3 linked regions of the Homo sapiens genome follow. The protein of the gene in region 3 interacts with the protein of the main gene of each other region in a pairwise test. Each region holds a gene or a part of one and is shown on either strand. Other genes may lie near its edges.

Region 1 (3,500 bases), on a different chromosome or scaffold from region 3:
TTAACTCACCTCCAGATGTGATCACTGTTTTGTGCACTTATTTTTAGCTCTGTGTTCCTTTTGTTCTGTATCATGCCTTATGCTTTTAAGACCTGGAAGGCAAGGCTAATGTTTGTTTTGTTTTATTTCATTCTTAGCACAACTTTGCATATAATTAGAAACCAAATAAATTTTATGATGACAGTGGTTCTTTTTAAAGCCTGAAATTTATTGATTTGACTTTATTTCATTCGAATACCTTAAAATTTAACCAGAGTGCTGGATTGTTTTCATTTGTAGCTATATAAAATTATTTTCCTCATGGAATAATCTTGTCCAAATTAGGAAAATTAGATATTCTTAATACTTACATCTTAGGTTAAAGAGATGATTTGATATATGACATAAAATTCTTTATATAATATATTCTTGGCACATTTACATCTCATTCATCATCTTACTCATCATTATGTTTGATGACAACTGCCAGTTCTGCTATACATAACTAACTTGCTCTTCAGTTTTGTCACCTTCATTTTCAGTGAGGAGAAGCGTATCTAGTAGAATGATTGATGAAGACTGAATGGTTGAACTTCGGAGCCTCATTGGACTCTGGTACATGGCAGGGTTAATCCCATTTCGAATTCCATGTTTCTTGAAAAACTTAGAGTTCTCTGCCATTGGATTCCGGAAGTAGATCTTACTGGAGCGTTTTCTGAGAGTTTTTACTGACTTTGTGGCCCGGTAATTGCAGGTGATATATCGGCCAAATGCATCCCGAAATGTCTTATTGAAGAGGGTGTAGACCAAAGGATTCACTCCTGAGGAAACATAGCCTATCCACACAAATATCTCCAGGAGCATTTGGAGAGTAGTTTGGTTACAGGAATCACATAAAACTAAAGTTATATTTGTAATAAAGAAGGGACACCACATAAGCAAAAAGAGGAAAAACACAATCCCTAGGACCTTTGAGGCTCTCTGTTCGTTGGAAATGGTCTGCACTGACTTTTTCCCAATTGTGGATGTTCTTCGCATAAGTGTTTCATCACCTGAGTTGGGCAGAGCCTTGTCCTTTCGAGAACCATCCAGCATTGCCACCTTTTCCGGTGACGAGCAAGGTGTTTCATCCCTTTGGAAAACTGTAGACACAGTCAACCATGTTAGGCGTTGAGGTGGCTTGTTTTTGACTAAGTAAGCCTTCTTCTGTAAAGCATGGATAGTGAGAAAGTAGGTGACAATCATAATTGCAAGAGGTGTGAAGAAGGCAGCCAGTGAGCCAAAGAGCATGAAATCGCCAAAACGTTCCTTTGTCAGCACACAAGTGATATTGTTTGGGTTGTCCACATCAGTCTCTATCCCTTTAATAGGGACTGGAATGGCAATGCCTAAGGAAGAGGAAAACAAGATAAATTGAGTCATTTTATGACCTGTAACTCTTCGATTAGATCCTTTTGGATTGTATCCTTATAACTTTATGCTTGTTGGTGCATTATAATTCCTGGGACCCACAATGCAGGATTTGTCGAAGCATTCATCAGTGAAGATTTGACAAACAGAACCTAAGTGAGCAAATCTGTTTTTAAACGGAGATTGGTTAGTAATTTCAGATTTATAATGAAAGCTCCCCTAAAGCTATAGTATATCCATGATACAGTGGAGAATGTCTTCATTTATTCTACATTTCTCATAATCTATTTTTGTTTTTTAAGCTATCTCAGATTAAGGAAGAGAAATTCAGAAGAGAACCTGCTTTTTTCTTATTATCCAGTGTAGTTGATCTAGAGGCACTTCAGAGTACATTTATTCAATATCTTTACTCAGTTTTGTCTTTGAGGTTACAGTTTCATTTAACAGTTTTTCCTTTTGATATGTGTGAATGTCTTTTAATCCTTTCCATCTAACTTCTTAGGGAAAACTAAAGTTCATTAAAAAGTGCTACTTAAAATTTGAGTGTGTGTGAATCATGATGTTGAAAGATTATGAGTTCTTAATCTTTCTTCTTCTGTAGAAGCCTGGGCACAGTGGCGCTCATGCCTGTAATTCCAGCACTTTGGGAGGCCAAGTGGGGGTGGATTACTTGAGGTCAGGAGTTTGAGACAAGCCTGGCCAACATGGCGAAACCCCATCTCTACTAAAAATATGAAAATTAGCCAGGCATGGTGGCACGCGCCTGTACTCCCAGCTACTCAGGAGGCTAAGGTGGGAGAATCACTTGAACCCAGGAGGCCGAGGTTGCAGTGAGCCGAGATCACACCACTGCCCTCCACGCTCAGCGACAAAGTAAGACTCTGTCTCAAAAAAAAAGTTCTTTTATGACCTGGGAAAGAAATATACCTCATGTTAGTTTTCTGATCTTTAAATACCATGAAGTATTTAAATATGATGTTTCTTAGTGAAGTAGCTTATTAGAAAGACAAATAATACAGGGGTTAACCTGAATCTTTTTCCTTTGAAACAGCAGATATTTTTTAAATGTCTGAATTAATTGATCTTTAGAAACCTCTGGAATCCTTGTGTTGTTTTGTGAATCCAAGAGCACCCCTCATCTACACACCCTTTTTATGGTAGCTAAAGAGCCATTGACAAGAATATGTTCCTCAAACCCTTTCTAACAGAGGTCATTACTTTCTCTACTTTTCCTCATGTACACCACCAGAAAGAGGATTCTGTATACTTGTTCTACACCAGGGGTCATTATACTACAGTTTGAGGACCATTGGCCCACATTCTATTTTTGTAAAAGTTTTATTGGCATACTGCCACTCCCATTTGTTAGTAACATATTGTCTGTGGCTGCTTTTGTTCTACTGCAGCAGAATGGAGGAGCTGTGACAGAAACCATATACGCCCTGCAAGCCCAAAATATTTGCTGTCTTACCCTTTATAGAAAAAGTTTGCTGACCCCTGCTTTACCCTGTTACTTTCAGATCACCATTCCACTGTTTATTTCTCCCCCAAAACACTTGCCTTTTGAAGTTTATTTTATCTACTTAATACTTTCTTCTCCATCTTGCTTTTCTGTTAACCTCCATGACATTTGTTCATCTTCATCAATGGCTTCAGTACCTGCTATAGTCTTCTCTCCACTGTTCCAGTGCCAGCATTTTCTACTTCATCCCATTCGTGACCCTTCTAAGACCTTAATTTTATATTTCTTGAACTCTTTGACTCTAATTATTATTATTTGCACTAAAGCCATCTACAAGTCTACTTAGAACAATCCCTAAGATTATGAACTCTAATACTTCCCTTCCTTGTCCTGCTACCCCTCACTCCTAGAGAACTTCTGTTTCCTGTTATTTTTATCTCTAGTTCATTCATTCATCTCAGTTTTCACATTCTATTAACTCATTCTATTAATGAGACTTCATTCATCTCAGTTTTTACATTCTGTTAATATCAGGACTCACACTACTTTCCTATCCAGCTTGTTGGTCAATAACTGTAAAAGTTTTCACTGGTACTTTTTATGCCCTTACCCTGTTATATTATTATACTTTCTGTTGCCAGGTATTACC
Region 2 (3,500 bases), on a different chromosome or scaffold from region 3:
AAGGCCACCTTTTCCACAGAGCCTTCTCTGCCCTGGTGGGTAAGAGGGCAAAGGATGAGTCCTTCAGAGGAAGCAGGAGCTGCAACAGGGGAGGTGGAGCAGTGGGGGCAACCTGGCTTCCCTTGGGTTAGACCCTGCAGACACAGGGGTCTTGCTATACTTGAATGCCAAGCACAGAAGTGGCACTGCTGCCTTCTACCCAGGGGTCCTGGAAGGTGACTCGTCAAAGTTTTATTAGTTTGGTGCATGGATAGTGATGTTACAGAGTCTAGGCCCCAGGGGCTCTCCCAAGCTGCAGCTTCCCCTCCTTCCTCAGGGCAGGGCCAGGCCAGGCCAGATGGTTTTCAGCAGCCTCTTAGCCGTGGGCTCCTCTAAGGCAGAGGCAGTGGAAGGGAAGGGAAACAGGAGAGAGGAAAGGCCAGAAGGAATAGAAAAGGAAAGTGGTTTTGCGTCAGAGTGTGGCAGAGGCAGTCCCTCAAAGAACCTCTGATGTCCCCTAGCCCAGGCCCAGATAGAGTTCCAGGGCCTGACCTCCCTGCCAGGCCCCAGGCTGGCCAGCATGTGCTGTGAGAAGGGATACATTGCAGGGCCGTCAGAAGGCAGCAGGGTGGGCTAGGCCAAGGAGTTCCTCTCCCCATAGACCCTCCTGGGCCCTTCAAGATGAGGGCTCCTCTTCTCAGAGCATGTGGAAACCACTTGGGGAGCTGTAACGGGGTGAGGTGGGTCCGGACTAGCCTGGAAAGTAGAGGTCCACATCGGGGTGCGGGAGGGAGCTAAGGTTTTTGGCTTGGGAATCTCTGGGGTCCAACCTGCAGTCTGGTATTTACATGGGTCTCCCAGGACTGAAGTTGCCTGGCTCCTCGGCAAGAGAGCTTGCTTGCCTCCTGTGGGCCTTGCAGGGTGTGAACTGTCCATCTCTCCCCACCGCCTGCTCCACGCCAAGCCCCACAAAGAGAAAACTCAGCCTCTGGGCCCTGACTCAGGCTCCAGCAACCCTAGAGCCCCAGAGGAAGGTCAAGGAAGGCGGCTGCATCTTTGGTGCCAAGGATAGGGGGACTGGAGGTGGGAGGGGGGACTCTATGAGCTGCCCCTGAGCTGGGGGGCCCAGCCCCAGGGCTGGTACCATGCCCAGCTCACTAGCACTGCCCTGGCAGAGTGAGGGTGTGCGGGCAGTGAGGAGCATGGAGCCAAGCGAACACTGCAGGGCCTGCCGGGGTGAAGAGGAGGCCGATCCACCCAGGCCTTCCTGCTCACGGTTCGCAAGGGTGAGGCTGGCCGGCCTGGGCAGGGAGGTGGGAAGCAGGCTGCTGTGCGGGCAGGCAGCAGAGTCAGCAGTGGAGGATCTTCAGGAAGGCCTTGCGGAACTCAATGTTGAAGGTGGTGTAGATGATGGGGTTCACGGCGCTGTTGACATAGCCCAGCCACGTGAAGGCGCTGTACAGGACAGGCGGGATGTTGCAGTCACAGTGTATGTTCAGGATGTGTGTGATGAAGAAGGGCAGCCAGCAGATGATGAACACGCCTGGGGGAGAGGGCATGGTCAGGCTGGTCCCCAGAGCCGGGGAGGCACGGCTGGGAACACCCACACCCAGTGCGCCCTGGCTCGTATGCCAAGACGGTGGGCTGTAGCCACAGAAGCACTGTAGGAGGAGTCCAGGTCTTGGATCCTAGACCTGCCTCTGACACCCATTTGCAGTGAAGTATCCCTTCAGCTCCTTCAGCCTCACTTCCCTCATTTGTCCCTTTCCCACCTCCTAGAAAAGGGTACATGGTTTAACAATAAATCCAAAAGGTTACCATTCTGACCCAGGTTAGCCAGTAGAAATGGAAATATCTACTCTACTTCCAGGTCATCTTTGAGGGCTATAGACCCATGCCACTTAGTTCTTATAGCATCCTCATAAGGTACATAAGAAAAACACTCACAACAGCTCTGCAATATACCCAAGGTCATTCACTCTTGAGCAGCGAGGCTGAGAGCTGAACTCCGGTCTATCCAGGTCCCCAGATGATCTCGCTCTAGCCTTCCCCCAATTTCCCCAGTCTTGGTGGGTACACCCTTGCTAGTCCCTGCCTTGAACCATGCCCTCTCACCCAGGGCAGCCACCTACCTGCTCTGCTCACCTAACTCAGGTGCACTTTTTCCAGGACCTCCTGCACAGGTGTGATATTTATCCTGGAAGCAATGTGTACATGGAATGCCCTACAGGCACAGGAGGCATCCCTGGAGACTGAATGGTGTCTGGGAAGAGTAGGGCCACAGAGCTGAGCCCCTATGGACTGCAGCAGAGGGCCTGGCTCCAATCCTAGCCTACCATATCCCAGTCCCATGATCGTGAGTAGTCCCATGGGATCAAGTGCTCTCATTCATAAAAGAAGGGAGGTAACAGCTGCCCCACTCACGCCCCAGGATCATCCGGCAGTCAAAGGGGATTCAGGTGCTTCCTGGAAGACAGAGTCACAGGGGACCCTCCTTTTCCCAGCCACCCATATCAGTCCACCTTTTGGGTTTTGACCTTTACTATGTGGTTTTCTAGACTTCTATTGAAAAATCCTGCTTTATGGACAGGGATGCTTTTCATTTAGATTGGGGGCCACTCCCCAACATCTCATTTATTTTTCACAGCTCTGGTCCCATGGAGTCTTGTTTGAGTGCAAGTGAACTGAATTTCCCAATTCCTCAAAAAGAGCAATAGTAATAAAAACCATAATAGTGACACTTACATATGGATAGTGCTTTGTAGTTTAGAAAATGCTTTCACCAACTGATTGCCATGACAGCCCTGAGAAGTAACCTACTCTACAGATGAGGAGCCTAGAGAGAGAAAGTGACTTTCCTGGGCACATAGGCCCATGAGGTTCTGGTGCCAGCATAATAGACTAGTCAAATTTCCAGACTCTGGAGTCAGACTGCCTGAGTTCAAACCATGGGTCCTCTTGGTCAGGTTTTATAACCACTCTAAAACTCTGTTTGCCCATCTGTAAAGTGAGCACAATTACAGAATCTACCTAATAGGGCTGTCTGTATGTCAATGGGCTTGGCCTGTGCCTGAGGAAATGCTAGCCCCATGATCCTGCAGCCATGGTTAGGAAGGACATGGCAGGGAATGGGACCTTTCACAGACCGGGCTGTGGCCAGCAGCCAGGGCCGACTCACCGAGAACAATGGCGAGCATCTGAGTGGCTTTCTTCTCCTTCTGCTGGGAGAGCTTCCTACGGCTCATGGTCTTGAGGGAGGTCCGGGTTTTGCCATTGGGCATGGTCTGGATCTCAAAGATCTTGGCAATCTTGGGGTGGTCTTTGGCATGCCCATTCTTCTCTGGTTTGGCGGGGCTGTCGGGAGTGCTGTGGAGACCATGGTGGGACGGGTCGGGGAGAGTCAGCTGGTGGTGGCTGGGTGGGATGGGGCTGTACCGGGTCCTCTCGGGTGGGCTGGTGCTGGAGAGCATCTCCATCTCCAGCTCCTGGGCTCGCCGGGCAGCCTCCTGCACCAGAGGCAG
Region 3 (3,500 bases):
GGGGTTTTCCGGGTCAGAGGAAAAAAAAAACCAGCAGCTTTCTGTGTGTCTGGCCGGGGTACTTCCCATGTCCGCTCTCAGCCCTGTGTCCTGGGGAGACTGTCCTGGGGCAAACCTGGGGAGCCCAGCCTCTCCCAGGCCTCAGGGCCTCACCTGCAGGCAGCCAGGTGCCCGAGCTTGTCCTGCACACTTGAGGCCCTGGCCTGGGCAACTTCTGACAGCTTGCCACAGCCTCCAGCCACAGGGCTGCCTACCTGGGCCAAGCTACAATCTCACAAACTCACACAACACAGGCACAAATTCTGACCACCCCCAGAGGGAAATTTTTTTTTTGAGGTGGAGTCTTGCTCTGTCACCCAGGCTGGAGTATAATGGTGTGATCTCGGCTCACTGCAATCTCCGCCTCCTGGGTTCAAGCAATTCTCCTGTCTCAGCCTCCCAAGTAGCTGGGACTAGAGGCGCGCGCCACCACACCTGGCTAATTGTTGTATTTTGCTAATTGTTGTATTTTTTGTAGAGACAGGGTTTCACCATATTGGTCAGGCTGGTCTCAAACTCCTGACCTCAGGTGATCCACTCACCTCAGCCTCCCAAAGTGCTGGGATTACAGGCGTGAGCCACCACACCCGGCCGGGAAAAATATTTTTAAGATTCCAAATGGCCTCTTACAAATCCACTCAACAGCCCCTCACTTCTACTCCCCTCCTGGGACAAAGTCAAGCCTGTGTCCTTCCTGGCTCATGGTTCCCCAAAAAACCGTGCACCTAGGCATGGTGGCTCACTCCTGTACTCCCAGAATTTTGGGAGGCCAAAGTGAGAGAACTGCTTGAGCCCAGGAGTTCAAGACCAGCCTGGGAAATAAAGTGAGACTCCTCTTCTACAAAAAATAAAAATAAAAATTAGCAGGGCATGGTGGCACGTGCCTGTAGTCCTAGCTACTGGGGAGGCTGAGATGGGAGGATCACATGAGCCCAGGGGTTCAAGGCTGCAGTGAGCCATTATTGAGCCACTGCACTCCAGCCTGCACATAGTGAGACACTGTCTTGAAGGAAAAATAGAAAAACTGGACCTCTGAACCATCAATCCTCACCTCCACCCCTGGCTCTGCAGATCAGCTTAGGTCAGTGAGGATGTCAGGCCACCCCCCCACACCCTGCCACTTCTTCTAGGGAAAGTCACAGTGGTCCTGTCATAGCCACTTCCAGTACCCCCACCCAGACTCACCACCAGTGGCCAGGGAACCATGTACAACTTCATGTGCAGCTGAAACAGGTAGAGGTTGAAGAGGACGATTGTCACCAGCCAGAGGAAGACAGCGACGAACATCACCCAGCCATAGGCCGGATACAGGTGGTACGGGGTGTCCGCAATCAGCGCCCACACCAGCAGCCCCAGCACCTAGGAGGGTCAGACAAGGCAGGATTGGCCAGAGATGCGGTTTCATTTCTTATCTAGCTAAGAAATACTGGCCAGGCACAGTGGCTCATGCCTGTAATGTCAGCACTTTGGGAGCCCAAGGTGTAATAATCGCTGGAGGCCAGGAGTTCAAGACCAGCCTGGGCAACAGAGCAAGTCCCCATCTCTACAGAAAAATTAAGGCCGGGCGCAGTGGCTCACGTCTGTAATCCCAGCACTTTGGGAGGCTGAGGTAGGCAGATCACCTGAGGTCAGGAGTTCGAGACCAGCCTGGCCAACATGGTGAAACCCTGTCTCCACTAAAAATACAAAAATTAGCCAGGCATGGTGGCGTGTGCCTGTAATCCCAGCTACTTGGGAGGCTGAGGCAGGAGAATTGCTTGAATCTGGGAGGCAGAGGTTGCAGTGAGCTGAGATCACGCCACTGCACTCCAGCCTGGGAGACAAAAGTGAAAATCCGTCTCAAAAAGCAAAAATAATAATAATAATAATAATAGTTAGCCAGGTATGGTGGTGCGCACCTGTGGTCCCAGCTACTCATGAGGCTGAAGCAGGAGGATCACATGGGCCCAGGAGTTAAAAGCTGCAGTGAGCTATGATCATGCCACTGCATGCCAACCTCAGAGACAGAGTGAAATTGTCTCAAAAAATAGAAAAAAATTTAAAAAGGAATGCTGACTTGGCTCGTGTGATACACCACTGTACCGGGGCCCTGCCCTGCACTCTCACTCCTCTTGCAGGTCTCAGCTGAGATGTCAGGTGCTCCAGGACACCCCCACGCCTCCAGCCGGCATCCCAGAGCCCTCATCAGTGCTCACAGGGCCCCCCAGGCACCCACCATCCAGGGCCATAATCGTTCCCTTCCCCAGACTGCGAGCTCCACGAGGGCACAGCCGTGGCTGTCTCACAGCTACGTCCCCACACCCAGCACAGGCCCTAGGCCCTGCCAGGGGCTCAGTAAAAGCTGCTGAAAGGAAGATCAAGTCACCACAGTCCCAGAGGCGGGAAGACAACAGCCCTGTGTCCTCCCTCCCAGCTGGGCCCAGCAGAGAACGTCACAAGGGCCTCTGGGTGACCTCCTGCCCAACACCCCACGTCTCCGGCTCTCCCAGATGCCCTTCTATACAGGTGTTGCCATCTCACAGGTGAAACTGGGCCTCCAGGAAGCCAAGGGGCCTACCTGTCAGGCTGTTCCCACACGGCAGGATGGGCCTGACCATCCCAGCAGAGCATGGGTAGTGGCTAACAGCATGAACTCTGGAGCCCAGCTGTCTGGCTTCGATCCCGGCTCTCCTTACCGGCTGTGTGGCCGTGGGCAAGTGTATAACCACCCTTGCTTATCATATAATGACCATTCCTATCTTGTAGAGCTACTGTGAGGACCCACAAGTTCATGCACATAAATGATTGCAGCAGAAGTGTTTTTTTATTATTCCACAAGCCCGAACTGGACTGCACAGGCCCCAGCCCTCACAGCCACAGAGAATTCTCTGCGGCAGGTTTGTCGACTCACTATGCAGACTGTCTCAGGGTGCAGGCCAGCAAAGGGCCAGCTGAGGCAGGGCCCAGGGAGCTCGTGGAGGCCCCCAGAGGCACCTCGGATGTGGCCATCCTGGGCCTCCCCAGCCCCTCCTACCCCCACCCACCCCTTGCTGGTGGAGATGCTCTGGAGAGCGCCTTCTCCACGAGGGCACTCTCTGGAATCCCTGGCCACGGAGAGGACACGAGGGTCTAGCTTTGGAGAAAGGCTCCATTGCCAATCAAGACACACAGAGGTGTCCTCTTTTTCCCCTGGTCAGCGCCCAGGTACATGGCACCAAGGCTGCGTAGTGACCTTGCCACCAGCCCAAGGACAAGTCAGTGGGATCAGAGAAGCGGCTCCGGAGCAGGACCTGCCTCTGGCTGCTAGGGTTTGGAGACAGAAAGTCCTGGCTGCTCCCAGCAGCTGAGGGGCTGCCGCCAGCCCCTAGAGCACCTGAGGGCCTGGGCCTAGAGCACAGACAGAGCTGGGGTGCCTGCCAGGCACCCCATCCAAAAGCAACCTCGTCGAGGACCAGAAGGGAAGCTCCTGTGTGGATCCCTAC

Evidence for each region. Proteins that work in one complex are often made in the same cells at the same time.
Region 1: the proteins of PLLP (region 3) and HTR2B interact in a two-hybrid assay, tested with the Homo sapiens proteins (one large-scale study listed by BioGRID and IntAct).
Region 2: the proteins of PLLP (region 3) and DRD2 interact in a two-hybrid assay, tested with the Homo sapiens proteins (one large-scale study listed by BioGRID and IntAct).

Annotation. Positions count from the first base shown.
Region 1 is NC_000002.12:231,108,043-231,111,542, forward strand, and holds the end of HTR2B (5-hydroxytryptamine receptor 2B), read right to left. Parts: intron 1,368-3,500; coding exon 475-1,367; 3' UTR 188-474; downstream 1-187. UniProt on the Homo sapiens protein: G-protein coupled receptor for 5-hydroxytryptamine (serotonin). Also functions as a receptor for various ergot alkaloid derivatives and psychoactive substances.
Region 2 is NC_000011.10:113,409,399-113,412,898, forward strand, and holds the end of DRD2 (D(2) dopamine receptor), read right to left. Parts: intron 3,486-3,500; coding exon 3,158-3,485; intron 1,523-3,157; coding exon 1,329-1,522; 3' UTR 207-1,328; downstream 1-206. UniProt on the Homo sapiens protein: Dopamine receptor whose activity is mediated by G proteins which inhibit adenylyl cyclase. Positively regulates postnatal regression of retinal hyaloid vessels via suppression of VEGFR2/KDR activity, downstream of OPN5.
Region 3 is NC_000016.10:57,260,673-57,264,172, forward strand, and holds part of PLLP (plasmolipin), read right to left. Parts: intron 1,399-3,500; coding exon 1,225-1,398; intron 1-1,224. UniProt on the Homo sapiens protein: Main component of the myelin sheath that plays an important role in myelin membrane biogenesis and myelination. Plays an essential function in apical endocytosis. Regulates epithelial development through the regulation of apical endocytosis.